2 separate regions of the Homo sapiens genome follow, and region 1 is linked to region 2. Evidence: fine-mapped expression QTL. A gene starts in region 2. The other region holds a variant in brackets. All regions are shown on one strand. Distances are from middle to middle.

Region 1 (15,157 bases), 93 kb after region 2:
AAACCCTTTCCAGCTCTGGCATCTGAGCTGTCAAGGAGAGCTAAAGCGCTCCAGATTGCAGGATTCCCACCAATGAAAGGTAAAAGGAAGGCTCTGCTGGTCTCTCTCTCCGAAGGTTCAGACGGTAATTCCGAGGTGTAAGATGCCCTATCCTATGAAGGGGAAATAGCTACAAGAGCACTAGAGGTCTGACTGGGAAGAGCGCCAAAGGGAAAACAATCTGATAGGGAAAAGGGCCCCCGGATTCTCTCACCTGGGAAAACCTCCCAAGCTCAACGCCAGTGCCCGTGGCACCTGCGGTTCCCCGGCCAAGGGCCGCGCAGACAGCGGATGAGAGGTGTGGGCAGTGCTGAGGGGATCAGTCCCGCAGCAGGGCCGCAGCCGGGGAAGCGGCCCGGATGGCGGAGCCGGGACAGAGGCTCCCGTGACCTTCCCGGGCTCGGCGCGAAGCCTGGGCTCTGGCCTGGGCGGATGCGGGTGACGGCAGCCGGGTCTCGGCAGGAGCAGGGCCGGCGCCCCCCCGCCTTGACCTTGACGCCGTCCCCGCCTCTGCGCTGCTGACCCGGCCCGGGGCGGCCCATACACTGCGAGCCGGCCACGGAGCGCGGGGCACGGGCGACCAGGACCGGCTCCCAAGCTGTCCCCGCGGGCAGCCACCGCCTCCCTGTCTGGCCCACGCGCCCGCCCACACCCGGCACGCGACCGGCTCTCCTGCCAGCCCTCGCGGCCTGCCTGCCTGCCACACGCCGGCCTGCCAGCGCTCACCTTAGAGATCCACGCGGGCCCAGCCATCGCTTCCCCTCCTGGCTCCGCAGCAACAGCCGCAGCGGCAGTGCGCAAGCGCCCACCCCACGCTCGGAGCCCGCCCCTGCACGGCCACGCCCCCTGAACGCCCCGCCCCCTAGACCGCCTCAGGATTGCTTCGCGCTCGCTCGCTGCCCCGCCCCTGGACATTCCGCTGGCGAATCGCCGGGCTCGTCTCTCTGTGACTGGCCTGGCTGAGCGCCAGGCGAACCCGGAAACTGAGGGGCCGGCATCTCCGGGAAAGCTTCTTCCTCCCCTCCCTGGTTCATTGACTCGCTGTTAAGGTAAGACGTTTGTTCCACACCTACTAGGTGCTGATTAATGTTCTAGGATCTTGGGGATATAGCGCTCCTCATAGAATTTACAATCCCGTGGAGAAAGACACATAATTTTCTTATTCCACAAATTTTGATTTTTTTTTTTTTTTTGAGACCGGGTCTCACTCTGTCGCCCAGGCTGGAGTGCAGTAGCGCGAACAGGTTCACTACAAAGCCTCGACCTCCTGGGATCAAGTAATTACTAAGCCCAGCCCAACTTTGTTTTTTCTTTTCTTTTTCTTTTTTTTTTTTTTTTTTTTTCTCCGTAGAGATGGGGCCTCGCTATGTTGCTCAGGCTGGTCTGGAACTCCAGAGTTCAAGCGATCTGCTTGCCCCAGGCTCACAAAGTGAGCCACTGCGACTGGCCGAATTTTATTTTTTACCAGCTTTATTGAGGTATAATGTATATATAGTAACATTTACTCACTGTAAGTGTACAGTTTGATGATTTTTAGTAAATGTAAACAGTTGCACAACCATCACCACAATCCAGTTTTTGAGCATATGAAAATGTTCCTTGTGTCCGTTTATAGTCAATCCCGCTCCTGTCCTCAATCCCAGGCAACTACTAATCTGTCTATTTAGCTCAACAAATATTTCTGAGGGTCAACTAGACACCAGGCACTGTTTTAAGTGCTGGGGCTTAGTGTCCAGTAGGAAAGACAGGCTTCAATCAAGTGTCACACACATGTCATTAAAACTGTTGCGCCAAGAAGCAAAAGAGCAAGGAGCTATGGCAAGGCAAAATCAGGCAACCTGATTCAAACCTAACCTGGAGGTCAGGGAATGCTTCTCTGAAGAAATAACATCCATACTCACCTTTCCCCTTGTCCTCTCCCTGTCCATCACAAACTCCTGAGTTCCTGCTGATGGCCAGGCCTCTAGCTGGGTGCCAGGGGAGGTCAGGTGTTTAAACCAGGTCTCTGCTACCCTACCCTGGGAAGAGTTCTATCCAGAGAGGAGCTGCCTACCCACCCAGAGAGGTGATGAGTGCAGTAGAGAAGTGATCCCAAGAGCTTTTATGACCTAAATAATAAACTGCAGCTAAGTCTGTGGCCTTGTCAGGAAGGAGGGCTTTTATCAACCCCTTTCCATTGGGCCCCTTCCCCTCATCAGGCCCTGGCAGTCCCATCCTGAAGTGTTCTCCCACAGTTCCTCCATCCCCAATGTCACCCCTGCCCTCCTTCGGGCCAGACCACCTCAGGCCCAGGCTCTTACAACAGCCTCTTCACCTGCCAACCTGCCCTCCCCTTCAGGCACAGCTCTGACCAGGGCTCGCCCCGGCTCTGAAACCTCCTGGCTCTCCCTTGCACTCTCCTCTCACACCACTGTCTTTTTTCAGCCTGATTTCCCACCACTCCTTCCAGCCCCAAAGACCTGGAGCGCCTGCCAACTAGGACTGCTGGCCAGCCCCCAAATGCTTCCCATATTTTACCTCTCCGTGCCTATGGTCGTGCCATTCCCTCAGCCTCAATGCCCTCTTGCCCCACTTCTACTGGCTGAAATTCTAGCTCCTTGTCAAGACTCAGCTTACATGTTGGGAAGTAGTAAAAGTTGTAAAAGCCCCCAAGACCCACGAATGTGTCCCCCTCTCCTTACTCAGAGCCCTCTAGCACTTGGCTCCCACCTCTCCTGGGAAACATCACATTCTCTTCTGCTGTGTGCCATTGAGAAGATAAGCTTTGGGCCAGGCGTGGTGACTCACGCCTGTAATCCCAACACTTTGGGTGGCCGACGCAGGTGGATCACTTGAAGTCAGGAGTTGGAGACCAGCCTGGCCAACATGGCAAAACCCTGTCTCTACTAAAAATACAAAAATTAGTTGGGCGTGTTGGCACATGCCTATAATCCCAGTGACTCAGGAGACTGAGGCATCAGAATCGCTTGAACCCACGAGGCAGAGGTTGCAGTGAGCCGAGATCATGCCACTGCACTCCAGTCTGGGTGACAGAGCGAGACTCTGTCTCAAAAGAGATAGAGAGAAGATATGCCTTAAGTCCAGAGATAATCTTGATGATCTCTTATGACGTTGTTTCTGGAACAGAGACTGGTACACAAGGAATACTTGCTGCTCAGTGATTGTGAAATAAACATTGACTGACTTTGTCCAGTCTTCATTTAATCTTCACAACAACCCTATGAGAAAACTGAAGTACAGCTAGTAAGTGATGATGCTGGCATTCACACTAGGAAGCTTCCTAAGTACTAAGGCAGTTCTCCTAACTGCTGAACTTTCGCTGAGGGCCAGTCCAATCCTACAAAGGCTTCCCAAGCCATTCTCTAGCAAGTGCACTGTGAGAACAAAAAATGAACAAGACCCACTCCTACCCTCCAGATCTAGTGAGGGAGAAACTCAGAAGTCTCAGATGGAAGTTGGGGGGTGATCAAGGAAGATTGCACAATGGAGATGGCATTTGAATCAGTCCTTGAAGAGGTAAAATGTCAGCAGCTGGAGGGACATGCAGGAAACAGAAATGACCTCACCTTGAGCTGAGATCTGTTCCCTGAGTCAGCCCTTGGCTCCAGAAGCCCCAGTCACCATTCCTCGAACATGTTCTAGAGTTCCTCCAAGATGCAGGTCACTCTCCTCTGGAAAAGCCCTTTTTCCTTGTCCCTTGCACTGTGTAGTGCCCAGAGATACCATCAGCAAAGTATGTTTGGACAAGACGGTGGGAAAACTTTGCCACTCAGGAGAAGAATCTAGAAAGTGCACCCTTATCTGTAATAACAAGCACTATCCAATCCAGGTGTGCTTCACTCTAAGGAAAAAAAAAAAGATTTTAAAATCAAGAGGCCAGGTGCGGTGGCTCACTCCTGTAATCGCAGCACTTTGGGAGGCAGAGGTGGGTGGATCGCCTGAGGTCAGGAGTTTGAGACCAGCCTGGCCAATATGGTGAAACCCCATCTCTCCTAAAAGTAACAAAAATTAGCCAGGGGTGGTGGTGTGCATCTGTAGTCCCAGCTACTCAGGACGCTGAGGCAGGAGAATCACTTGAACCTGGGAGGCGGAGATTGCAGTGATCCAAGATCGCACCACTGCACTCCAACCTGGGTGACAGAGCGAGACTCTGTGTCAAATAAATAAATAATAAAATCAAGATAGCAATTTTTAAGTGAATAAATCAGCAAAACAGAATATACATTATTCACATACCAAATGTTTATTTTTTGTTACAAAAGAAATTCATTTCAACAGTTTTCCTACTTTATTTAAAATATTATTTTCATTAAAGATATGATTGGCAAAGGGTTCATCCCTATCTCTAAGTTAGGAAAAGATCCAACAAATTGGTAAAGAAGGTATTAGGACTTTAGTAAATAAATGGGAAAAGGGGACTGGGCGCGGTGGCTCACGCCTGTAATCCCAGCACTTTGGGAGGCAGAGGTGGGTGGATCACGAGGTCCGGAGTTCAAGACCAGCCTGGCCAAGATGGTGAAAGCCTGTCTCTACTAAAAATACAAAAAATTAGCTGGGCGTGGTGGCGGGTACCTGTAATCCCAGCTACAAAGGAGGCTGAGGCAGAGAACTGCTTGAACCTGGGAGGCCGAGGTTGCAGTGAGCCGAGATCGTGCCACTGCACTCCAGCCTGGGCGACAGAGTAAGACTCTGTCTCAAACAAAACAAAACAAAAAACATAGGCCGGGCATGGTGGCTCATTCCTGTAATCCCAGCACTTTTGGAGGCCGAGGCGGGCAGATCACAAGGTCAGGAGGTCAAGACCAGCCTGGTTAACATAGTAAAACCCCCTCTCTACTAAAAATACAAAACTTAGGGAGGCATGGTGGTGCACACCTGTAGTCCCAGCTACTGGGGAGGCTGAGGCAGGAGAATCACTTGAACCTGGGAGGTGGAAGTTGCAGTGAGGCGAGATCACACCACTGCACTCCAGCCTGGGTGACTGAGTAAGACTCCGTCTCGGGAAAAAAAAAAACAAAACAAAACGGGAAAAGGACCTGAATAATCAATTCACAGCCAAATAAACTTTTAAATAAATGTTCAATCTTAACAATAGTCAAATGCATGCAAATTTCTAAAAAAAATTATTTTTATTTAAAAATATTAATAAAATGCAATGCCTTATACCATCCAATTTATGGCGCACTGCTTGGCTGGCCTTATACATTTCCACAATCTCTTTGGAAAACAGTTTAGCAATGTGTCTTAAGAGAGACATTAACTGTTCTTACTCTTTCACCTAGTAAATCCATTCCTGAGAATTAAACTCTTGGGGAAAAAAATCCAGAAAGAAAAAGCCATCAACACAAAGATATTCATTATACAATTATCCTTAATTTTGAAAACTAAAAAGAGAAAAAAGCAGTCTAAATGATTAACAGAAGAAATGGTTATGTAATTTAGGGGAAATGAATGAAGTGGACCATCATGCAGCCTTCAAAAGTGATCAATGGCCTGGCATGGTGGTTCACATCTGCAATCCCAGCACTTTGGGAGGCCGAGGTGATCACTTGAGGCCAGGAGTTGAAGACCAGCCTGGGCAACATAGCAAGACATAGTCTCTACAAAATATAAAAATTTAGCCAGGCATGGTGGCATGTACCTGTAGTCCCAGCCACTTGGGAGGCTGAGGTGGAAGGCTCACTTGAGCCCAGGAGTTAGAGGCTACAGTGAGCCATGATTGCACCACTGCACTCCAGCCTGGATGACAGAGGAAGACCTTATCTCTAAAAATAAAATTAAAAAATAATTTTTTTTTTTGAGATGGAGTCTGGCTCTGTCGCCCAGGCTGGAGTGCAGTGGCGCTGTCTTGGCTCACTGCAAGCTCCGCCTCCTGGGTTCACGCCATTCTCCTGCGTTCATGCCATTCTCCTGCCTCAGCCTCCCAAGTAGCTGGAACTACAGGCGCCCGCCACCATGCTCAGCTAATTTTTTGTATTTTTAGTAGAGACAGGGTTTCACCATGTTAGCCAGGGTGGTCTTGATCTCCTGACCTCGTGATCCGCCTGCCTCGGCCTCCCAAGTGCTGGGATTACAGGCATGAGCGACCGCGCCTGGCCAAAAAAAACATTTTTAAAGTGAGTATTATGAAGACTTTAGCATCTTGATAAATGTTTATGGTTGAATGTTCAGAAAAAAATAAAAATTTAAACTATTATCTATGTTCTCTTATAACTTCTTTTTATATGTGAACAAAGAGTAGAAGGAAACCTGCTCCCTCCCACAGAATTCCCCCACCCAATAAAATTCAACTCCAGCCTTCTAGTTGCTGAGGCCAAAAGCCTGAAGATGAGCTGTTTTCAAAATAGGTTCAGTTTTGGACACTTTTCCCCTTGGCAGCTGCTGCCACCAGGGTCCAAGTCAGAGTTACCTCTTGCCTGAACCAACACAGTGGCCCCCAAACTGGCTTCCCTACTTCTACCCCTTAAAATCCATCTCCTGCCAGAGGGATTGTGTTCAAACATAAGACAGATACATCCTTCTCTGCCCAAAGCTGCCAGCGACATCCTGTCTCTCTCCAAGTAAAAGGCAATGCCCTGGCAGTGCCCCATAAAGCCCTAAAGGGTCTAGTCCTGCTAGCCCCTCTCTGAGCTTCTCCCCCACCACTGTCTCCCTTGAAGCCGACCTACCTCCTTGCTGTTCTTTAATCGGCCATGCTTCCTCCCACTGCAGGGCCTTTGCACTTACTGCTCCCAATGCCTGGAATGCTTTTCCATATGGCTTGTTCCATCAGCCACTCCCCATCTCCCCTCTCCCAGACCCTGGCAACCACCAATCTCTTTTACATCCCAATGTATTCACCTACTCTGGGCATTTCATATAAACGGAGTCATAAAATATCTGGTCTCTTGTGTCTGGCTTCTTTCATTTAGCATGATGTTTTCAAGACTTATCCATATCATAGCATGCATCAGTCCTTCATTCCTCATGAC[G/A]GTCAAGTTATATTCCATCACATGAATAGACCACATTTTATTCATACGTTCGTCAGTTGATGGCCATTTGAGTTGTTTTCGCTATTATGAATGATGCTGCTATGAACATAGGTTTTCTTTCTGATTTTCTTTATTGTTCTTGAAAGGTTACTTGTCAATAAAAATTGTGTTCCTAAAAAGTCCCTATACCTCAACTTTCTAGCAGCACATGTATTGCCTAAAATGCGCAACACCTCTACTGCCTGCCCCGTCATATGTCATTAAAGCCCAGAATTGCACCCTTCCCTAGAGGAGTGAAAAGATGTCTGAGATGAGTCTTCAATCAGGAGATTTTTCCCTTTGTCACGCCTCCCTGTTAATAAACAGGAGGCATGGCAGAGCCTAGCGGGAAGGAGCTGGGCCCTGGGGAAACTTGCTCCCAAATGTTCCACTGCAGTGACTTCAGGCCAAAAAAAGTTGCTCTGAATACATGTGTTTCCACAGATGGGTTTTACTGCGTGGTCCCTCCAGCTATCATTGCCGAGCCACCTACTATGTCAGGATGGGGCAGGAAGTCAGAGGGGCTAGAGATGAAGGATTTCTATCCCCTACCTTGGAGGAGCTCCTAGCCTCTGAGGGCCTGGGCAGGTACACAGATCACCACAGGAGGAGGGAGACACCTCATGGGCAGCTCTCACTGGTCTATTCATCCTGCATGGAGAGACTCAGCAATGATTACTGACTAAAGAGATGAACTGTTACTACGACTTTGCACTTTCCACTCTTCTGTGGCCTTGAGAGAAATCAAGGCCCACACAGCCCTGGGCCTCAGGCCTCTCCACCTAGAAATTCCAGGGCTCTCCAAACTTTCACAATGAAAACTGAACTCATTACTCTCCCCAAAACCTGCCCTCTCTCCTGTGTTCCCATCTCAGCAGAGGGCCTCATCACATACCTAGGTGGTTACCAAACCAGAGTATCAGCCTCAATTCCTTCATCACTCATTCAGAAAAGATTCTTTGTGCATCTGTGATATTCCAGGCCCTATGCTAGGCACAAAGAAGAATGGAGTAACCCAGGGGAGGCGAAGTCCCTGCCTCCTGAACCTTAGAGTGGTTCTCAATGCTGCCAGATGCTCCCTTTTTATAACAAATATTTTGAATATCCTCTTTACCATACTGAAACGAAATTCATGGATAATCTAAACCACTTATACACATAATGAAAAAACAAAATCAATATAATGCTGCTACTGTAATATGAAAGAGAAATAAAAGGAATACTGTAATAAAATAATGGGTTTCAATACATAAATGCTCAGGCCTAAACTCTAAAAGACATTATGAAGCAGTCACATGCTTGCACCTACTTATAACAAGTAAGTTTGGATTTGAGAGAGGTATGATAATATTCAGGCCACAGTTTTTATCTTTGACATTTAAAAATAAGAGCTAAAAAAGTAGATGTTAATAGACCATGAATCACAGTGATGGTGACGTTCACAAATGCAGATGAATACAGGTGTGTTGTATGGGGTCAAGCAAAATTCTTTTTCTTTCTTTTTTTTGAGACAGGGTCAAGCAATCCTCCTACTTCAGCCTCCCAAGTAGCTGGGAATGCAGTCATGAGCCACCACTCCCAGCTAACTTTTTAATTTTTTGTAGAGATAGGGTCTTGCTATGTTGCTCAGGCTAGTCTGGAACTCCTGGGCTCAAGCAATCCTCCCGCCTCAGCCTCCTAAAGTGTTGGGATTACAGGCATGAGCTGCTGCACCAGGCCACATCAAGCAAAATTCTTAGTTGCCACAGGCATCTGGGTTAATTTCTTCTTTCTCAATCACAAGTCACGTTGCCATCTCCGATGTTACCTCCAAAATGGTGATCGAGTCTTGTTAAAGTTTTGAACAAAGTAAATTTTAGTCTTCCCTTGATTTGCATTCCTGGATAACTGAACATATGTTAAGATCACACAAAAAGGAGTTTATTTATAAAACAGAGTTGGGTTCCAAGCTCAGGTCATTATAAACAGGTTTGTTTCCTACAGGAGTATCTGGTTGATCTCCTCAAGGTCCTGCAGGACATGAGACATTCTCCAGTGGGCAGGATTGTCCCGGCATTACAGAACATCAGCATCCCCAAAACCCAGGCACTAAGTGGAAATAGTACCCTCTTGTCATTGCATCCACAAAACACCCATACAGCTCAAAACATTCCTTAGGGAGCAGTATCCCTCCCATACGAACACTGATCTAGAGGGTAAATATTCAAACAGTTGATCCCAATCCACTGAAACAAATGCTGTAATATGGATTCCAGGGTCTGTGGGTCCTCTAAGCCTGGGGTACCTCAAGAACTAGGGGAGATGAGAGTGTCATGGGGGTTAAAGCAGAGATTGTTACAAGCAGACAAGACTTAAGGGAGGCCAATTTTCCAAACAGAAAGAAGGGAAGGAAAAGGAGTGCCAGGCAGAAAGGATACCAGGAACAAAGGGCCAGGTGGGAAGAAGTGGGGAAAGGCAGGATCCAGACCACATGCACCTATCATGGCAAGCAGTTTGGACTCTGTCCTGGGGAGGTAATGGCACACCATCCAAGTCACCATGTGCTTTACTCATAAGTGCATTATTTTGCTTAATGAATGTTCACCAAAAGATTTGTCCTCCAGAGGCCCATTTGGGGATAGCATCTCTGGAGCCAGCCTAGAAATAAGGAAATAAATGCAATCAGGGGTGTTGATCAAATCAAATTGACCTGACTTATCTCCCATCTGTTTATACTGCAGGGACTGGCTTTGCTCTATCTGCCTAAGTCCATGGGTCAAGTTCAGAGGTTGCTATAAAAAGTGATAAAACTTCCCTCAAAGCAGATACTGACTCCCAGTCCCTCTCTCTTCCTGGAGTAGCTGAGCCTTGGGCTGCAAGGTTAATGGAGTAAATACTTGAAAGCCTATTCTCATAGTCTCTGGGGTGAACAAAGGAACTAGCTGCCCCTTTCAAAGGGACAACATTTATTCTCAGTATAGGTGCCAGGGCAATAGTGGAAGATCCTCCAGGCAAACCTGGGTCCCAGTTCTCACATTGACACTCTCCAGATGTGTGAATTTGACCTTCCATTCTCTCACCTGTAAAATGGAGTTATTAACACTCCCACGGAGAATTCAGAAGACTCTCTGATTAATGTGACACCTTATAACATCTTTAAAGATGTTTGAGTAAGCTGAAGCTAATAGAATGACAAAAGACTTTGATATACTTTGGATATTTGTCCCCGCCCAAATCTCATGTTGAAGTGTAATCCCCAATGCTAGAGGTGGGGCCTGGTGGAAGGTGTTTGGGGCCAGGTCCCCCATGGCTTGGTGCTGTCTTTGTGATAGTGAGTTATAGTGCGATCTGGTCATTTAAAAGTGTATGGCACCTCCCCCTTGCTCCTGCTTTCCACCTGTGTTACGCAAGCTGCTGTTTCACCTTCTGCCGAGAATAAAAGCTTCCTGAGGCCTCATCAGAAGCCATGTTTCCTGCACAGCCTGCAGAACCATGAACCAATTAAACCTCTTTATAAATTACCCAGTCTCAGGTATTTCTTTATAGCAACACAAGAATGGTTGCGGTCACACAGACCTGCTGAAGCTCCCATTCTCCTGGGCTGATCAGATCAGAAGATGCAGGGAAACTGATTAAATGAGAACCCTCCCTACACAAACTTCCCAACAATCCTCCAAACACAGAAATGAACATCTAATCATTCAGGGCCTGCCTCTGAGGAACCCATAGTAGCCTGGGAGAGCCACAAAGATAGCTCTGGAAGACAGTTCATATTATGACAAGATGCTTCAGAGACATCAATGTGACCTGAGTTGATAGAGCTTGGGAAGGGTTAAGGGATTCCCAGGTAGTTTCTTTTGTTCCTTTTGTGTAAACCATGATGCCAGGCCTCTACAGACACAGGGACCCCAGCTCACTGGGATTCTCCCAGAGGTCTTGCAGAACCACCTTAAGTGTGATGAAGAGCTCCTCTTGATGATGAAAGCAGCCTGTTCTTAAAAAGTATGAGGATCTGGCCAGTTGCGGTGGCTCACGCCTGTAATCCCAGCACTTTGGGAGGCCGAGGTGGGCGGATCACCTGAGGTAAGGAGTTCAAGACCAGCTTGGCCAACATGGTGAAACCCTAGCTCTACAAAAAAAAAAAATACAAAAAAAATACAAAAAAAAAAAAAAATTAGCTGGGCATGGTGGTGGGCGCCTGTAGTCCTAGCTACTCAGGAGGCTGAGGCATAAGAATTGCTTGAACCTGAGAGGCCAAGGTTGCAGTGAGCCGAGATTACATCACTACACTCCAGCCTGGGTGGCAGAGTGAGACTCCATCTCAAAAAAAAAGTATGAGGATCTAAGACATTTGGGGTGCTATTTTCACCCTACGGACACCCCCACCTTCCTCTCTGATACTGAAAGCTTGGCAAGTGTAATCACCCGATGGGTTCTTCCTACCCACTGCAAAGACAAAACCATTATATGTTGGCTTAGTTAACAGACTTTTATGAAAAATAATCATATATTTGAAGACAAAAATATTTATTGAGAAGAGTGGCATTGTTTTACATGCTTGCAAATGTCTTTAGAGCTTGGCTTAATAGAAAACTGCTCGGGCTGGGCACAGTGGCTCACACCTGTAATCCCAGCACTTTGGGAGGCTGAGGCAGGCGGATCACGAGGTCAGGAGATCGAGACCATCCTGGCTAACATGGTGAAACCCTGTGTCTACTAAAAATACAAAAAAATTAGCCGGGCGGGAGTCTGAGGCAGGAGAATGGCATGAACCCGGGAGGCAGAGCTTGCAGGGAGCAGAGATCACACCACTGCACTCCAGCCTGGGTGACAGAGCGAGACTCTGTCTCAAAAAAACAAAAACAAAATAGAAAACTGCTGGATTCTCACATTTGCTTCTTCATTCAACCTGTTGCAATATCACATACCCATATAACTTCTGGAAATCTTCACTCTACACTTGTGAGAAAATGAGAATGAAAAAGGCAAATAATGTCTCAGTATTATTATGAGATATTGTTGCCCTTGCAGACTCTCTGAAAAGATCCCAGAGACCCCAGGAGACCCACGATCACACTTTGAGAGAGGCCATTCTAGAAGCAGTTGGGACTTTACCCAGAAGCCCACACTCCAGAGACCCTTCCACAAGGGCTTCAGCTGTCTTGATGCCATTCCAGCAGCAGAGGGTCTGTTCATTAGCAAAATGGATGGCTGAAATAATTGTCCATTGATCAAATGAGTGGTATTTTAGATATGTGAAGGGTTGTCCAAGTACCTCTGCCCTTACACAGACAGACAGGACACAAAAACCTAGGGAGTTTTGATGGGGTCTAGGTCTTAGGAGTCCGTCTGGTCAGGTTCAAGCTTCTGAGTAAGAATGCAGTTGCCTGATCCCAAATTGAAGGTTGTTCAAATCTTGCTCCTTAAATATTGTTTGCAACTTCCTTGAATGAAATCCCTCCCCCCTATTTTCTGAGACAGAGTCTCACTCTGTTGCTCAGGCTGGAGTGCAGTGGTGCAATCTCAGCTCACTGCGGCCTCAACCCCTCAGGCTCAAGTGATCTTCCCACCTCAGCCTCCTGAGTAGTTGGGACTACAGGCGTGTGCCACCACGTCCAGCTATTTTTTGTATTTTTTTTAGAGATGGGGTTCTCACTATGTTGCCCAGGCTGGTCTCAAACTCCTGAGCTCAAGTGATCCTCCTGCCTCAGCCTCCCAAGGTACTGGGATTATAGGCATGAGCACTGCACCCAGCCTGAACTAAATCTTTCAAGAGGAAAGTTTATTGAAATATGCAAAAGGTCAGGGAGCTAGGCCTTCATTGAGCTCATAGAGAAGGTTATATGACTGTTGGGGACCTGCTTGCTGATAAGTGATGGTACAAGGTGTGGACTTCAGTCTGAGACTTGCTTGCCTCAGACCCCCTCATAGCAAGGTTTGTGGAAGGAAACACAACACCCCTACCTACCACTCATTACTGGAGATTACTGAGATCTGCAGTAAAATGAACCTAGTTGTGGATGAATTGGTTTAGGTCATTTCATGATAGATACGGCCATAACAGGAGAGAGGTGAGGGGGGCGTGGACCACAGTGATAGCAATGGAGTGCTAAGAAGTGGCTGGCTTCTAGATATGACTGGCTGTGCTAATGGACTGAGGGGTCTGAGGGAAGGAGAGAAATCAAGGGTGCCTCCAAAGATGTCAAAGGCATCCAAGAGGTGGGTGGGACACGATCCAGAAGAAGCAGATTTGTGGAGGAAATTGACCCCCTCCTCCCTCAACAACAGGACAGTCGCCATCCAGCTGGGGTCCCATTTGAGCCATCCAGTAACTTCTCACATCCAGAGTAGCTTCTGGGGAAGGCTCTAGGGCAGGTCAGTCTCCCGGAAGAGAGAAAGGGGTTTCATTCTGTTGGCTCTGCGCTAAACGACTGGTCACTAAATCCTCCAGTAAGAAAATCTTTTTCAAGTCAGAATATTTGGGGATCTAGTTGATTAAATGTATGAACAGGTCCAGGAAAATGTACTCTTTTAAAGGGTGTTGATTTTACATTTGCTAAGACCATGTGCTAGACCCTGGGAGATTCCTCTGTGTCTGGGGATACAGACGAACATGTGGTCCCAGCCCTGGTCCCAGCCCTCCTGTTTCTTAGTGTTTGAGAGGGAAAAATAACCCTCCTCAGGACAAAAAAAAAAACAGTCCCAGGGTGTGTATTTATTTATCCACCAAATACTCATTAAGAACCTACTATGTGCAAAATGCTAGAGAAACAGAGACAAGCTGTTCAGTGCTAGGATATAGGCCAGGTTAAACAAGGGGTTGCAGGGTATGTGTGTGTGAGAGAGAGAGGGAGAGAGAGAGAAAGAGAGAGAGACTGAGGCAGACCTAGTAACTGCTCACACACTATAAATCACAGCCATGTCAGGGAAGACGCCAAGATGACAATGCTTTATAGGTAAAGATAAGAGTAAGATTTGAATTGCCCCTAAGATAGAGAAGATTCCCATGAGCCAAGATAGCAGGTGGGGTCCTGAGCTGATAAAAAGTAGAGGTGGGATAGTAAAGGATTTGAGTGGAGGACTGGGGAATGACTCACAGGGCCCACAGAGCTGCTAGAAGACAGGCTGCAGGCTTCGTTTACTTTAAGAGATGGTCCCACCCAGACCTTGGGCCCAGGGATCTTCCATCTCTGTCATTAAGATCTACCTAGATTCAGGCTGAGACGGGCGGATCACAGGGTCAGGAGATCAAGACCATCCTGGCTAACACAGTGAAACCCCGTCTCTACTAAAAATACAAAAAAATAGCTGGGCATGGTGGCAGGCGCCTGCAGTCCCAGCTACTTAAGAGGCTGAGGCAGGAGAATGGCAGGAACCCAGGAGGCGGAGCTTGCAGTGAGCCAAGATCGCGCCACTGCACTCCAGCCTGGGCGACAGAGCGAGACTCCGTCTCAAAAAAACAAAACAAAACAAAAACAAACAAACAAAAAGATCTATCTAGATTCTAAGTCTTAGAAGAACAACTTGCAGATTGAGTTGTTCTGCAGTAAATGCTACAAGGCTTCTCTGGGATGAGAGGTCATCTTGATCACAAAGTGCATCATCATCACAAACGAGCACTTGGGCAGCAGGTCAAGATGACCTCTCATCCCAAAGAAGCACTTGGTAGCATTTATTCCTGTTTTCCTTCCAAATTTTAAAATAAACTTCATTGTGTGAATCAGAAATGAAAAAAAATAAGCTAACATTTAATGAGTATCTGGCACCCCTGCTGCCTTTTCCTTTTACATTATTTACAAGACTGCAATTGACAAGGAGTCAGCCCCCTTTAAACACTGGTAACCACGTTTCCCTGTCCTAGACTGTGTGATCAAGAGAAGAGTCCGGCAGGGCACGGTGGCTCATGCCTGTAATCCCAACTTTGGGAGGCTGAGGAGGTCAGGAGTTCGAGACCAGCCTGGCCAACATGGTGAAACACCGTCTCTATTAAAAATACAAAAATTAGCTGGGTGTGGTGGCTCCCACCTGTAGTCCCAGCTACTCAGGAGGCTGAGGCAGAAGAATCACTTAAACCCGGGAGGCAGAGGTTGCAGTGAGCTGAGATCATGCCCCTGGGCGACAGAGTAAGA
Region 2 (15,157 bases):
TGCCCAACTAATTTTTTTTTTTTTTTTTTTGTAGAGACAAGGTCTCTAGGCTGGTCTCAAGCTCCTGGACTCAAGCAATCCCCCCTCAGCCTCTCAAAGTGCCAGGATTACAAGTGTAGGCCCCTGCACCTGGCAATGAATTCTAACTGGATGTTTACATACCACTCTAAGTGCCTTCAGTAGACTTAACTCACTGCAACCTCATGAACTAGGAATCATGACTCCATTTTACAAATAAGAAAACTGAAGCACAGAGAGGTTAAGTCATGTATCCAAGGTCAAACAGCTTATAAGCATCTATCTCATCCCAGATGCTCTAGAAAACAGAGCCCAAGGCAAAGTTTATGTCCTAAGGCTTTATTGGAAGTGGAATTCTAGGGCACAAGAATCAGGGAAAAAAAAAAGACATGAGGCAGAAAAGGAAGGAAAGCAAATAAATAGAAGGTAGTTGCATTTCTGAGCTGTTCTTCATTGCACAAGGAAACATAGCTCTTTGCTATGTCATGTAGGTGACCCAGACAGGTTGTGTGTGCTGCACTTTGGACCATTCTGTTGAGGGGAGAAAGCCGGGGAACTTACGGCTGTCTTCCTATCCCCGGTCTCTCCACAGGAGGGAGCCAGTGCAGAGTGAGCCATGAGATTCACTCCCTCATAAGGGAGGTGGAGAAGGGGGATCCTTCCCAGTGGCAGAGCACCCCTCGCCCCTTTGTGTTTAGTTATTCACCCTGTCCTGCATTGCACCCATCATCTCGTGGTCCTTTTTGTCTCTGCTGGTTTCAGTTAGGGGTTCTGCCCCTGGTAATCAGGACTCTCCATTTTACAGAGGAGGAAACTGAGACTCAGAGAGGTGACTTGGCTTGGGTCATGGTGCAAATCCAAAAACCAGTGTGTTCCACCCCTGCCCTATATGGTGCAGATCTGGAGAATACGGGTCACGTGGCCCTTGATCCAGGTCTTTCCAGGTGAGAAAAGAAGGTGCCTCCTCTGCAGAGGTTGCCCAGACATCTGGGTTCCCTCCCTTCCTCCTCCTTCCCTAATCCTCCAAAGGCCTCCATCCTCCGTGGTCTCCATTGCCCACTCCCAGCTCAGTCCTGGCAGGTTAGAATCCTCTATGTGCTACGTTCTTCTGCCCCTCCTCTCAGGAAAGCTCTGCCCTGGTGACCCATAGCTCAGAGAATGTGAGTCCCTGGGAGAGGAGTTTGAATCTCCAAAAATCTCTGGGTTTTATCTATTTTATTTTATTTATTTTTGAGACAGAGTCTCTGTCACCCAGGCTGGAGTGCAGTGGTGCAACCTTGGCTCACTGCAACCTCCACCGCCTGGGTTCAAGCAATTCTCCTGCCTCAGCCTCCCGAGTAGCTTGGACTACAGGCACCCACCACCACGCCTGGCTTATTTTTGTATTTTTAGTAGAGACAGGGCTTTACCATGTTGGTCAGACCGGTCTCGAACTCCTGACCTCAGGTCATCCACCCACCTTGGCCTTCCAAAGTCGGGTTTTATCTAGAGCTGGAGGATACTCTGATCCCAGGACTCACACCCCACCCACTCGATGTAGACAGGGCCAGAGGGGACACAAATGCAGCCCAGAGCCTCAGCGCCCTCTGGAGCACAAGGGTCTCCCAGCCGGGCCCCAGACTCGATGTCCAGAGCACACTGTGGTGGCTGCCGGAGGCCTTCTGGGGGCAGGGGAGGAAGGACGGCTGTTTCTGGGGATGGAGGCAGTGGCGCAAGATCCCAGTCCTGTGGAGACCTGGGTGGGTGGGAGGCGCTCTGGCCAGCAGGGGTCAGCAGAGGCCCATTGTTCTCCTGCTCGTCCTGCACCCAGAGACGACTGCGAGGCCTCAATCCAGAGCCCCAGGTGCAGTATTTTGAAATTTAAAAAGAAAAAAAAAATCGTCTCCTGGTAATACATACGCATGATAACAAAAAAGTGGCCCAGAAAAGCTAATGCTGAAAACATACAGCAATGACCCTCCCACCCAAGCCTTTTTAAAGGCTTTTAAAAACAAAAACAAAACACTTAATATCTCTTTGTTGTGGGAGGCAGGCTGATTGCTTGACCCCAGGAGTTCAAGACCAGCCCGAGCAACATGATGAGACCCCCCCCTCAATCTCTCAAAAAGAAAGAAGAAAAGGTAGTTTCATGTTAATTTCAACATGCATTGGGAAATATCTGTATATATTTATATAACAAGTTCTTCAATTGCTTAGAATAAAGCTATTTCATTTTTAAATTATAAAATGGAGTTGAAAAATAGTAAATAATGTACTATACCCCTGGGGAAACCAAATATGGCAAAACTAATGAAGGTGGTAAAGAAATTGATTGGAAAATAGTGGTCTTGATTTTTTTTTTTTTTTTTTTTAAGAGATGGAGTCTCACTCTGTTGCCCAGGCTGGAGTGCAGTGGCGTGATCTTGGCTCACTGCAACTTCCGCCTCCCGGCTTCTAGCAATTCTCCTGCCTCAGCCTCCTGAGTAGCTGGGATTACAGGTGCACAGCACCACGCCAGCTAATTTTTTGTATTTTAGTAGAGATGGGGTTTCACTGTGTTGCCCAGGCTGGTCTCGAACTCCTGAGCTCAGGCAGTCAACCTGCCTCAGCTTCCCAAAGTGCTAGGCATGAGCCACCACACCCAGCCAATTCTTGAAGTTGAAAACCAGTGAGGGCAGCAATCACTTCGATGACAGTAGAGGCTGGTGCAGAGGCATTTGGCCTTACACGCATAGCAGGCACAAACTTCCTCAATCGACAAACTCAGGTGGGCAAAACTGCAGTTTTATTTTCTGTAACTCAATGGAAAAAAAATTTTTTTTACAGCTCTCCACCCTTCCTCCTAATGGCAGGACATTTAATCTGTTGGTTTTGAGAGACAGGACCAGCTGGATTTCCTAGGCCGACTGAGAATCCCTAAGCCTAGCTGGGAAGATGGCCACATCCACCTTTAAACACGGGGCTTGCAACTTAGCTCATACCTGACCAATCAGGTAATAAAGAGAGCTCATTAAAATGCTAATTAGGCAAAAACAGGAGGTAAAGAAATAGCCAATCATCTATTGCCTGAGAGCACAGCAGGAGGAACGACAATCGGGATATAAACCCAGGCATTCCAGCTGGCAACTGGCTACCCACTTTGGGTCTCCTCCCTTTGTATGGGAGCTCTGTTTTCACTCTACTAAATCTTGCAACTGGTGGGGCACGGTGGCTTACGCCTGTAATCCCAGCACTTTGGGAGCCTGAGGCGGGCAGATCACGAGGTCAGGAGATCGAGACCATCCTGGCTGACATGGTGAAACCCAGTCACTAATAAAAATACAAAAAAATTAGCTGGGCATGGTGGCGGGCTCCTGTAGTCCCAGCTACTCGGGAGGCTGAGTTGGAGAATGGTGTGAACCTGAGGAGGTGGAGCTTGCAGTGAGCCTAGGTCACACCACTGCACTCCAGCCTGGGCGACAGAGCAAGACTCCATCTCAAAAAAAAAAAAAAAAAATCTTGCAATTCTCTTCTGGTCCATGTTTGTTACCGCTCGAGCTGAGCTTTTGCTCGCCGTCCACCACTGCTGTTTGCCGCTGTCGCAGACCCGCTGCTGACTGCCATCCGTCTGGATCCGGCAGGGTGTCCACTGTGCTCCTGATCCAATGAGGCACCCATTGCCGCTCCCGATCCGGCTAAAGGCTTGCCATTGTTCCTGCACAGCTAGGTGCCCAGGTTTGTCCTAATCCAGCTGAACGCTAGTCACTGGGTTCCACGGTTCTCTTCCGTGATCCACGGCTTCTAATAGAGCGATAACACTCACCACATGGCCCAAGATTCCATTCCTTGGAATCCATGAGGCCAAGAACCCCAGGTCAGAGAACACAAGGCTTGCCACCATCTTGGAAGCGGCCCGCCACCATCTTGGGAGCTCTGGGAGCAAGGACCCCCCGACCCAATAAGAGTTTCGCAAAAACTCGGTCATTTTCAAGTTTAAACTTAGTCAAGTCCTAGCGTCCCATTTCTAGGAATTTATCCTAGAGATAGACTAGCTCAAGTACGAACCACGCAAGGATAAGATTATTCATCACAGCTTCATCTGTAACAGCAAAAGACTGAAAACAACCTAAATGTTCATCCTACAGAGCTGTTGAAATGCATCTCGGGCCAGCCCTTCCATGGAATGCTGTACCTACCCCACAAAAAGAGAACCAGGAAGTTCTCCAGGCAAAAATATGAAAAGTTCTCCAGCAAATGTTGTCAAGTATAAGAAGACACGAAACTGTGTATGCCATATGTTAGCATTTGTATATATCCAAGATATTTCTAGAATGATGCAAAAAAGAAATTTTTAACAGTGGTGGCTCTGGAGAAAAGAAATGAGTGAAGGATGGTGGGGAGAGGGACAGAAAAGTGGGAGGAAAATTTAATTTTTACTATGAAGCCCTTTGTACTTTTTAAAACATTGTATTGAGGTGAAATTCACATAACATTAAATTCACCATTTTAAAGTGTAGGATTCATGGCTGGGCATGGTGGCTCACACCTATAATCCCAGTACCTTGGGAGGCTGAGACAGGAGGATCCTTTGAGGCTAGGAGTTCAAGACTAGCCTGGGAAACATAGCAAGACCTTGTCTCTCCAAAAAAAATTTAAAAATTAGCCAGGCATGGTGATACATGCCTGTAGCCCCAGCCACTCAGGAGGCTGAGGTGGGAGGATCACTGGAGCCTGGGAGTTTGAGGCTGCAGCGAGCTACGGTCGCACCACTGCGTTCCAGCCTAAGCAACAGAATGAGATCCTGTCTCAAAAAAAAAAAGTGTACAATTCAGTGGCATTTAGTACATTCACGGTGCTGTGCAACCATCATCTCTATCTAGATTCAAAACATGTTCATCACCCCAAAAGGAGACCCCATACCCATCAAGCAGTTAGTCCCCTTTGTACATTTTCATGTTCCACTGTATCAATCAGGGTTCTTTCTGCAAGAGATGGCCCCTTAAAAGTGGTAGGTGAAGAAAATGAAGGGACAGGTGAGGACAGTGTTAAGGGAGCCACAGGGGATGGTGAGGCAGCTGCAGGGAGGTAGACACTTCTGACCTGAAGGAGCTGGGGAGGAACTGTTCCCCCTGAGGCCAGAGCTGGCTGGAGGGGCTGCTGCTGCCAAAAGTGTGGCCAGCCGGGAGGGAAGGAGAGGAATAAAAACTCCAACCTTTCTTTCTCTCTACCTTCTGCTGTCCTGCCACCACCTGGCATTGGCCTGACAACCAGAGGCCAGAGGCCGGGAGCCCAAGGGAGGCTCACACAGGGCAGCTCTGGGGACAGAACCAGGGGAGAGAGTAGAGAGGGAATCTGGACATAACTGGCATATTGCTTGTATTTATTTTTCAAAATGAAATGAACCATTTAAAAAGTTCAGCCAAATCAGACTCCACTACAGCCTGACCTTTTCAGCACCATGTCCCAGCCTTGAGCTTCTGTTGATATATTGCCTTTGTCCTGGTTCCCAGGTGGGGTCAGCCCTCCTCGCAGTGACTGCAGAATGACCTTGTTCCTATCAGCCTCTGTTGCCAGCCCACCAACTTTCTCCTCCAGCAGCCACCTGACCCTCAGTTCACTGCCTGCCCTGGCGAGAGGGTGTGCCGGGCCTTTTTGCTTTTGGTTCCTTGAAGCCATCTTTTCTCTGTGGCCCGCGCTGAGCACTCTGGGGCCCTGTCGCTTTCTTGGGCCACCTCAGGTCCCTGATATGCTCAGACCTGGAAGATCTGCCCAAGGGAGGTCTTCTTAAGGCCCTCCCCAGGGCCTTGCTTCTGTTTGGACTCTCTTCCCCTTCCTGGTTCCCTGGATCTATAAGAATCTGAGGGATGGGGAAGGAAGGGGAGTTGGGAATGAACAACTTACACATTTTTCCGAACCTTCCCAGGCTTTCATATTGACCAAGGCTTTTGAACTTCAGAGCTGAGCATTCTATGTCTTTTTCTCTGATTATGATTCTCCTCGGGTGGGGAGACACTGACTTGTCACTTACAGTGGTGACTCATTCGATCCCTCCAATCAGCCCATGGGCAAAGGACTCCCCATCACCTTCTCACGTCCAGTTGGAGCTGGTGGCCACTTTGGCCCACCTCAGGCCATCACCCTCATGATTCAAGCAGTTAAAACTGAGGCCAGGAGAGGGCCGAGATCTGCCCAAGATCGTGGTTGAGGGCGTGTCAGTGGGAGATTCAGGCCTTGCAGCTAGACCCCAGACGACCTGCTCAGTGTACCTTCAACAGCATTAGGAAGGCAGCATTTGGGGGCCTGTGGCCTGTGCCCTGAGTTTGTTAGAAGGCAGCCCAGCTTTTTCTCAGTCACCTGCCTTCACCAGACAGCATCACCTGTGGCCCAACTGGACCTATTTCTTCTTGGGGACATCTCATAGGTATCCCCACTAACACCTCCTGTACACAATGTATATGGATTTTAATTGCGTCCCCCAGCAAATTCATGTCTACCCAGAGCCTCAGAATGTGATCTTGTTTGAAAATAGGGTCTCTGCAGATATAGTTAAGATGAGGTTCTTTGGCATCAGGGAAGGCCCTACTCCAATGACTGGTGTCCATGTAAGAAGAGAAAATAGGAACATAGACTGCTATGGTGGGAAAATTCCCAACAAATTTCATATGTTGGAAACTTAACCTCAAAATTCATATGTTGATTGGAAGTTGAGCCCTTGGGAGGTAATTAGGGTTAGGCAAGGTCATCAGGGCGGGGTCCCATGTTGAAACTGGAAACTTTATAAGAGAAGAAAGACCTGAGCTGGCACCACGCTCTTGCCCTCTCACCATGTGATGCCCTCCACGTTATGATGTAGCAAGAAAGCCCTCACCAGATGCTGGCACCTTAATATTGGACTTCCAGCCTCTAGAGCTTTAAGAAATCAATTTCTTTGTGTGTGTGTGTGTGTGTGTGTGTGTGTGTGTGTGTTTTGGTGTTTTTTTAAATTTGTTTGTTTGTTTTATTTTTGAGGCAGGGTCTCACTCTGGTTGCCCAGGCTGGAGTGCAGTGGTGCAATCATGGCTCACTACAGTCTCAACCTCCCAGGCTTGAGTGATCATCCCACCTCAGCCTCCCAAGTGGCTGGGACCACAGGTGCACACCACGGCGTGGCACCCAGCTAATTCTGTTTTATTTTTTGAAGAGACAAAGTCTTACTATGTTGCCCAGGATGGTCTTGAACTCCTACGCTCAAGCAATCCTCCCACCTTGGCTTCCCAAAGTGCTGGGATTAAAGGCATGAGCCTCCGCACCCGACCTATTTTCGTTATGAATTACCCAGTCTGAGGTATTCAGTGATAGCAACAGAAAATGTACTAAGGCATAGACACAGAGGAAAGACAGCCACGTGAGGACAGAGGCAGAGGCTGGAGAGATGCACATGCAAGCCAAGGAACACCCAGGATGGCCAGTGACCCCCAGCAGCTGGGAGAGAAGCAAAGAAAGAGTCTGCCCACAGCCCCCAGAGGGAGTGTGGCCCTGCGCACATCTTCATTTCCAACTTCTGGCCTCCAGAGCCGTGGGAGAATACATTTCTGTTGTTTGAAGCTATCCAGTTTGTGGAACTTTGTTACAGCAGCCCTGGGGAATGAATACATGGTCTTAGAGGGGAGACTTTTGGTATTCAGAAAAAGGCCTTGTCCTGTGTGAATTTCCCATCTCTTTATGGCTGCCTGAAACCCCCCCGCCCCCCTTAACATGCTTCTTTCCTTTAGAAGAAGGGACAGATCCAGGCTTCTATTCATGTGTCCCTGGAAAGTCACATTCCTCGGTTGCCTCTATCATGTCTTCAGTGCAACTGCTTCTATAGACCATGTGGCGTGGTCTCAGTGTTGGAAATGTCTCCTTCCTTCCCCCGGGGTGGGCTCCCTCCTTGGGTCTCCAGCCTCCATGCAGGACCTGGGGGAGGGGGACTGAGTGGGTGAGATCCCTCCCAGGGCAGCATTCGGCAGACCGCAAGTCAAGGTTGCAGAGTGTATGCAGCCAGGGGTAGCAGCCACTTCAGGATCTGGGTCTGGATTTGTGCTGAGAACCACTATGACCTTTTAAAGCCAGTGAGGAGGTTTTCTGGGGGCCCAGAAGCCCTGAGCCCATTGGCCAGACCTCCTGGGAGAAGCGGAGCGGATTTGCATCAAAAAGAACACTGGCTTCATTGAAATTCTCCTCATCTTGAGAGAAACAAAACCACAAAGAAAAGGAAAGTTTTAATTCTGAGAAACTTCACTGAGGAGCAATTTTTTTTGAGCTTCTAAAAATAGAGAGGAAATGAGCCTCTTTGGGTCACTCTAGTTGCCGCCTCCCCTGCCCCATGCCCACCCCCACTGCTCACTCAAGGCTAGCCTCTCTCAGTGGGTGACTGAGCTGTCTTCAGTGGAAGCCCGAGGCAGATGCCACGCAATTCTGGAGCTGGATACGGCTGCCCACACGGGGACCCCAGCATGCTGGACAGCAGAGAGACCCCACAGGAGAGCCGGCAGGACATGATTGTGAGGACCACCCAAGAAAAATTGAAAACCAGGTAAGTCATTGGTTGGGTTTCTGCACACTGCACCTGTGGGCCGAGTTCTAGACTTTGCTCTGCTGTGTGAACTTGGGCAAGCTGCTTCTCTCTCTGAGCCTCAGTTTCTTCACCTGGGAAATGAAGGGAAGGATCTGGGCGATCCGTAAGATGGAAGAACTGGTCATTTGGAGGGCTACTTAGCATGGCTAAGAAAGGCTCATCAAAGAATGAGGCACATCCCAGGGGTATGAGCTGGGGCTGCAGTTGGAGACCAGTTGGATCTCAGTTGGATGGAGGAGGAATTTTTCAGTCAAGAATGTTTCCCTGTCTCCTCAAGGGGGACTTTTGCCTGCGGGGGTCAAAGACAGATAAGTTTTGGTGGGGACCCAGAGGTTCCCGCTCCAGTTTGCTGCGTGACCTTGGCAAGTGCCTTTGCCCTCCGTGGGCTGTAGCTTCCCTGTCTGAATATGAGTGCAGTGGCTGAGGTTTCCCTAAAGCCCTTCCACTGTATATATTCCAGTAATCTGTGATTTAGAGGAAGTGGATTCAACGTATCAGGCATTCACCAATGCCCACCCTGGCCCAGGCCCTGTCCATCCAGGGAGTAGGGGATCCTGAGAAGATGAGACTCAGTCCCAGCCCTGGGATGCCCTGGCCAGAAGGCAGGAAGAAGGCAGGCGCACGCGCACACGCACACACACGGAACTCCAGGACCCCAACATCTGTGATTTGTGTCCAGGAGGGGCGCAGGCGAAGGGGCAGAGAGAAGGAGGTTTCTAACTGGGGCGCCTGAGATGGACCTTGACGGTCAGAGTGGAGCCAAGAGCAGTGGGCAGAGAGAACGACCTAACAAAGCAAGACAGGAAGTTTGGGGATGGGAGAGGTCTGGGTGGCGGAAGCATAGAACTGGGGAGGACAGGGGCTAAATACCAGGGTCCAAGTCCTCTGTAGTAATGGGGAGGAATTGCCAGTGTCTGAGCTACCAAGACTACAGCCCCTGTCCTGATGGAAGGTTATGGGGAAGGAAGATAGAGGGAAATGGGAACAGATGTTAATGCGCCTCAGAGATGCAGAGGCCCCTCCGAGGGCTGGCATCTGGGCCCTGCCCTGGGTCTCCAGAGAACCCTGCTAATCCAAAGTGGACTCCTGTTCTTCCAGAAGCAGGGACTCTTCCCTGCAAAGCCTCCAAGAGCATGAGGGCAAGCCCCTCCCTGGGCATAGGTCAGGTGCACAGAGGGTCAAGGGCCCCTGGAAGAAAGCTGGACTGACTTCCTCACCCAAGGGCAGATTCAGGATCTCCTCTGGGCCCCGGTGTCCTGGCACCTCCCCTCCTCCCTGGGGTCTGTGGGCTCAGAGAGCAGGAAGGCCAGGCGAGATGCTCAGAGGAGCACATCGAAATATGTCCAGAGGCCATGCATGATGGCTCATGCCTGTAATCCCAGCACTTTGGGAGGCTGAGTCGGGTGGATCACCCAAGGTCAGGAGTTCTGAGACCAGCCTGCCCAATGTGATGAAACTCTGTCTCTACTAAAAATACAAACAGCCAGGTGGTGGTACGTGCCTGTAATCCCAGCTACTCAGGAGGCTGAGGCAGGAGAATTGCTTGAACCCGGGAGGTGGAAATTGCAGTGAGTCAAGATCGTGCCACTGCACTCCAGCCTGGGCCACGAGAGCAAAAGTCCTTCTCAAAAAAAAAAAAAAGAAGAAAAAGAAATAAATGTGCCCAGAGCAGGGGTAGACAGGCATGAGGACAGCCAGGGCCAGGGGAGTCTTTGAAAACAAAATCAAGGTCTGCAGGATCTCAGGGTCTTCTGCTCCCTGTGAGTGAGGGGCCAAGTGGGGCTCAGGGCCACAGGAGCCTGTGTCTCAGGCCTGTGGTGAAAAGGGGTGGCAGAGGGTCCTGTGTGCCCTGCAAAGCTCACAGAGGACTGGGCTTGTTTTGCAGACATCACTGAAGGAAAGTAGGCAAACTTGAGGCAGAACCCTAGGCTTGTGCAGAGAAGGACTCCCTCCTGAAAGGGTAAATGGGTCTTGGGACCCCGTAGGGAAAGAGAAAGGCTAAAAACCCAAGAGTTGGAGTGTCAGTTCTACTACTTTCTTGCTGAGTGACTTTGGATACATTGTTTAACCTTTCTGAGCCTCAATAGCATCCTCTGTACAAATAAATATACAACGCCTGAACTTCATTGACATTGCAGAAAAATTGGGTGGATTCCATCAGCTAATGTGTATGAAAATGTTTTCAAAGCATAAGAGTTACCCATCACAGGCATAGTAACTCTCATAGCAACACTCTTAGCAGCAGGCTGGAGGTCACATGCCTTGGGTTCCAGTCCAGCTCTGCTCCTAACCCATTCTGTGACCCTTGGCAAGATACCTTCTCTGAGCCTCAGTTTCCCCATCTGTCAAACAGGGAAGCTAAACCTGCTCTGACATTCTTGCAGAGCAGCTGTGAGAAAAGAACTTAATTCTTGTAAAACATTGTTCTAAAGTCAGAGAGAGCCAGGTGCAGTGGCTCATGCCTGTAATTCTAGCACTTTAGGAGGCCAAGGAAGGAAGATTGCTTGAGTGCAGGAGTTCAAGACCAGTCTGGGCAACAAAGCAAGACCTTGTCTCTGCTAAAAATTTAAAAATTGGCCAGGCATGATAGTGTGCACCTGTAGTCCCACCTACTCAGGAGGCTGAGGTGGGAGGATCGCTTGAGCCCAGGAGTGTGAGGCTGCAATGAGCTATTAACCACTGTACTCTAGCCTGGACTACAGGGCAAGACTCTGTCTCAAAAAAATAATAAAAATAAAAAATAGGCTAGGCACAGTGGCTCACACCTGTAATCCTGGCACTTTGGTAGGACAAAATGGGTGGATTGTTTAAGCCCAGGAGTTCGAGACCAGCCTGGGTAACATGTTGAAACCCTGTCTGTACAAAAAATACAAAAATTTGCTTAAAAAAATACAAAAAAGCTGAGCACAGTGGCTCACACCTGTAATCCCCGTACTTTGGGAGGCCGAGGTGGGCAGATCACCTGAGGTCAGGAGTTCGAGACCAGCCTGACCCACATGGAGAAACCCCGTCTCTACTAAAAAAATACAAAAAAAAAAAAATTAGCCAGGCGTGGTGGCGCATGCCTATAATCCCAGCTACTTGAGAGGCTGAGGCAGGAGAACTGCTTGAATCTGGGAGGCAGAGGTTGCCGTGAGCTGAGATCGTGCCATTGCACTCCAGCCTGGGCAACAAGAATAAAACTCCGTCTCAAAAAAAGAAAAAAAAATTAGCCAGATGTGGTGGCACATACCTGTGGTCCCAGCTACTCAGAAGGCTGACGTGGGAAAATCAATTGAGCCCGGGAGGTCAAGCCATGATGGCACCACTGCACTCCACCTGGGTGACACAGCAAGACCCTGTCTCAAAAACTAGATAAATAAGGCAGAGAGATCATTGTTGTGACCATTGTGATGCCCCTTTCTGCTTCTCTGCTCCTCTGGGCCAACTCCAGGAGGGAAGGTGTATTAGTCTGTTTTCCCGCTGCTGATAAAGACATACCTGAGACGGGGAAGTTTACAAAAGAAAGAAGTTTATTGGACTTACAGTTCCATGTGGCTGAGGTGGCCTTACAATCATGGCAGAAGACGAAAGGCACATCTCACATGGCAGCAGACAAGACGAGAGCTTGAGCAGAAAAACTCCCCCTTATAATAATCCTCAGATCTTGTGCGACTTACTGTAACGAGAACAGCACGGGAAGGACCTGCCCCCATGATGCAATTACCTCCCACCTGGTCTGTCTCACAACACATGGGAATTCCAGATGAGATTTGGGTGGGGACACAGCCAGACCATATCAGAAGGGCTCTATCTCAGTCCTGCCCGTTTGCCCTGACCTTGTGGCCATGGTGGCTGCTCCTGGGGAAAGGCGGGTCTGCATTCCTCCATAGCCTGAGAGGGGCTTATCTTCCCCCTGCTTCCCAGTGTTGCAGAGGGGAAGACAGGAGGTGGAAGAAAGGGGAGGCTGAGAGCCCGAGGAGGGCTTGCACCCTGGCCTGACCCACGAGAGTTCCCTTCCCTGCCACACAAGTTGCAGGGCTGGATCCCAGTGACTGGGGCAGGTGTCCGGAGGAAACAGCCAGGCCAGGGCCAGGAGAGGCAAAACCCGTGGGGTCTGAGCTAACACTGGCCCTGCTCTGGCAGCTTGTGTTCTGTGCCCTTGAGGCTGTGGCTGTAGACCATGCCCTCCATCAGGGACACCCCTTGAGCCTGCCCAGGGCCTGGGTCCTGACCCTGGGAAGCCCTCTGTCCAGTGGAGACACCGGTCTCCCTGAGCCTAAGGAAGCCCATTGTGGAGGAAGGGCTTGGAAGGAACCTCAGAAGAGGACAGTCCATCCTGTGTTTGAAAGGCTGTGGATGCCCGGATGGCAAGCAGGGCGCTGTGCTGACCAAAGGCATGATTGTGAAGATGTTACGGGTGGCCATGAGACTGGTCAGGTTGGGGACCGGCTAACTCCTGGGCCTAGAGAGGCTGACGTGGCCAGACTAAGGGCAGCCAGGCTCAAAGAAGGAGGCAGACAGGAACCCTGGGAGGGGTGCAAGCAGCAGAAGCCTGGGGAGAGCCTGGTTTGGGGTTTGTGAATCTAGCAGCAGTGAGTACAGGCTGGACTAGGGGTGAGGTGGAGGCAGGAGGCCAGGACTTGGGAGCTCCAAGGGTCCCATCTGGCCCAGGGAGGGCTGTCAGGCTCTGAAGTGACCACACTCACTCTGGGCTCCTAGCTGACTCTCCCGGCGCTGCCTACCCAAAGACTGGGTGCAGAGAGGAGCCCCCTAAGAGCCAGGGATGTGGAACGGTCGCAGGAGGCTGCTACAAGCCCCATGAGCAAGGCTGTTCCCACTGACAGAGCTTTCCCAGGATGACAGAGAGTGCGCTCTGCCTCTCTGGGGTGTGCTAGCCTACGAGGGGCAATCGTAAGGCGAATGTCACTGAAAGAACACAAGTGTCCTTAAACATGGACTATCTGGGCTTTCTAGTGCTGAAATTCTTCCCACTCCCACTGCCCACTTCCCATTATGTAAAAAACACAGTTGTTTCATGTTTTTGTTTCTTTACTGTTTTTCTTTGTTTTTGTTAAGAATGCATTCATTTATTCAAAATTGTTTATTGTAGAATAATCAGGCATTGCGCTAAGCACTGAAGAATATAACAAAACAAAAACAAGTCTCTACCTTAAGGAGTTTGCATGCTTGCAGGGGAGACAGACATTAACAAATAATTATACAATTAAACTGTAATTGTGACAGGTGCCATGAATGAATAAAAAAAAAAAAAGGGAATATAATCAATGCCACTGAATTATACACTTAAAAACATTTCAAATGGAAAATTTTATGTTATGTGTATTTTACCACAATACAAACATTTTTTTAAAATGTCGGTAATTAAAAAAAATAGAATATAACGAAGATCTGACTTGGTCTTGAGGGTTGGTGCAGGCTCTCCTGGTAAAGCAACATTTAAACTGAGACATGAAACAGGAGTAGGAGTTGGCTAGGGGAAGAACTTTCTAGGAAATGGGCACAGCATGTGCAAAGGCCCCGAGGTGGGATGGAGCTTGTAGTGTTCAAGAGACTAAAAGCCAGTGGGAACAGGGCAGATTTGGGACTATCATGTAAAAGCCACAGGAAATCAAGGTGCTGGTGTCAAGAGCCCAAGATCAAAGGGGTCAGGCACATCCATGGAAAGCGTGAGTCTCTAGGGCAAACCAACCCTGGTCCTAGACTTCTGAGTACGGATCTGGATAACTTCCGAATGCAAGTCCGCCCAAGCCAGCGGTAGTCCTCTCAGGAGCTGCAGAGATTTTAGCCAGGGGCAGCAGAGCTCAAACTGACCTGAAGTCAGGATCTGGGCCCAAAGCTAACCCACTGTCTCCAGGCAAGCCCCTGAATGGCAGAGTACAAGGCAAGCAGGTTTTTTAGGTCACTAAGTCCAACCCACTGTATTACAACATTCACATATTATCAATCTACTCTGACCTGATTACCTCTAGGGAAGGGGAACTCACTACTTACCTCTTCAGCTCCGCAAAAGCACAGTTTCATCTAGGGCCAGTGGTGGTAGAAAAAAACCCTATCTCACACTGGGTCCTGTGAGAGACCCCTGGATCCCAGCTCTGGCCTCCTACCCAGACAATTCTGGCTCCTTGGAAAGGAGCCTGTGAGGAACACTTTAGAACAGGGCTGGGAAGGTGCTTTGGAAACTGTAAAGGTTGTGACCATGTGAAGGACATCTAGGGCCTAGCTCAGACTCTGGCCCCGAGCAGCTGTAAAATAAGAATTTAGATGTCAGCTGGGTGTGGAGGTGCATGCATCTATAATCCCAGCTACTCAGGAGGCTAAGGCAAGAGATTAGTCAATTAATCAATCTCCACCCTCACTTTCCCATAAGTAACCACTGTTCTGAACAGCCAATGTTCCAGGTGTTCTTGAGGATGGCATGCTTGGGATCACACAGAATGTTACTTGTCTGGCTCCTTGCACTCATCGAAATGTTTGTGAGATTGATCAGTATTGCCAAGTGTCTCAGTAGTTCATTCGTCTGTACGTTTCAGTAGAATTCCATTGTGTGGCTATACTACAATTTTTTTTATCCATTAATCTATT

The links.
Region 1: its variant is fine-mapped to the expression of ACSBG1 in whole blood (INTERVAL, PIP 0.96).

The regions. Positions count from the first base shown.
Region 1 is chr15:78,135,039-78,150,195 of GRCh38, reverse strand. LOC124903534 (a long non-coding RNA gene) reads left to right here and starts at 977. Exons shown (of 2, transcript XR_007064725.1): 1 at 977-1,088; 2 at 2,464-6,917. IDH3A (isocitrate dehydrogenase (NAD(+)) 3 catalytic subunit alpha) reads right to left here and starts at 834. Exons shown (of 11, transcript NM_005530.3): 1 at 766-834. The coding sequence starts at 792. RefSeq lists a silencer at 295-874. The variant G/A (reference allele first, on the strand shown) is at 7,011.
Region 2 is chr15:78,227,744-78,242,900 of GRCh38, reverse strand. It overlaps ACSBG1 (acyl-CoA synthetase bubblegum family member 1), which reads left to right and starts at 8,336. Exons shown (of 14, transcript NM_015162.5): 1 at 8,336-8,530. The coding sequence starts at 8,400.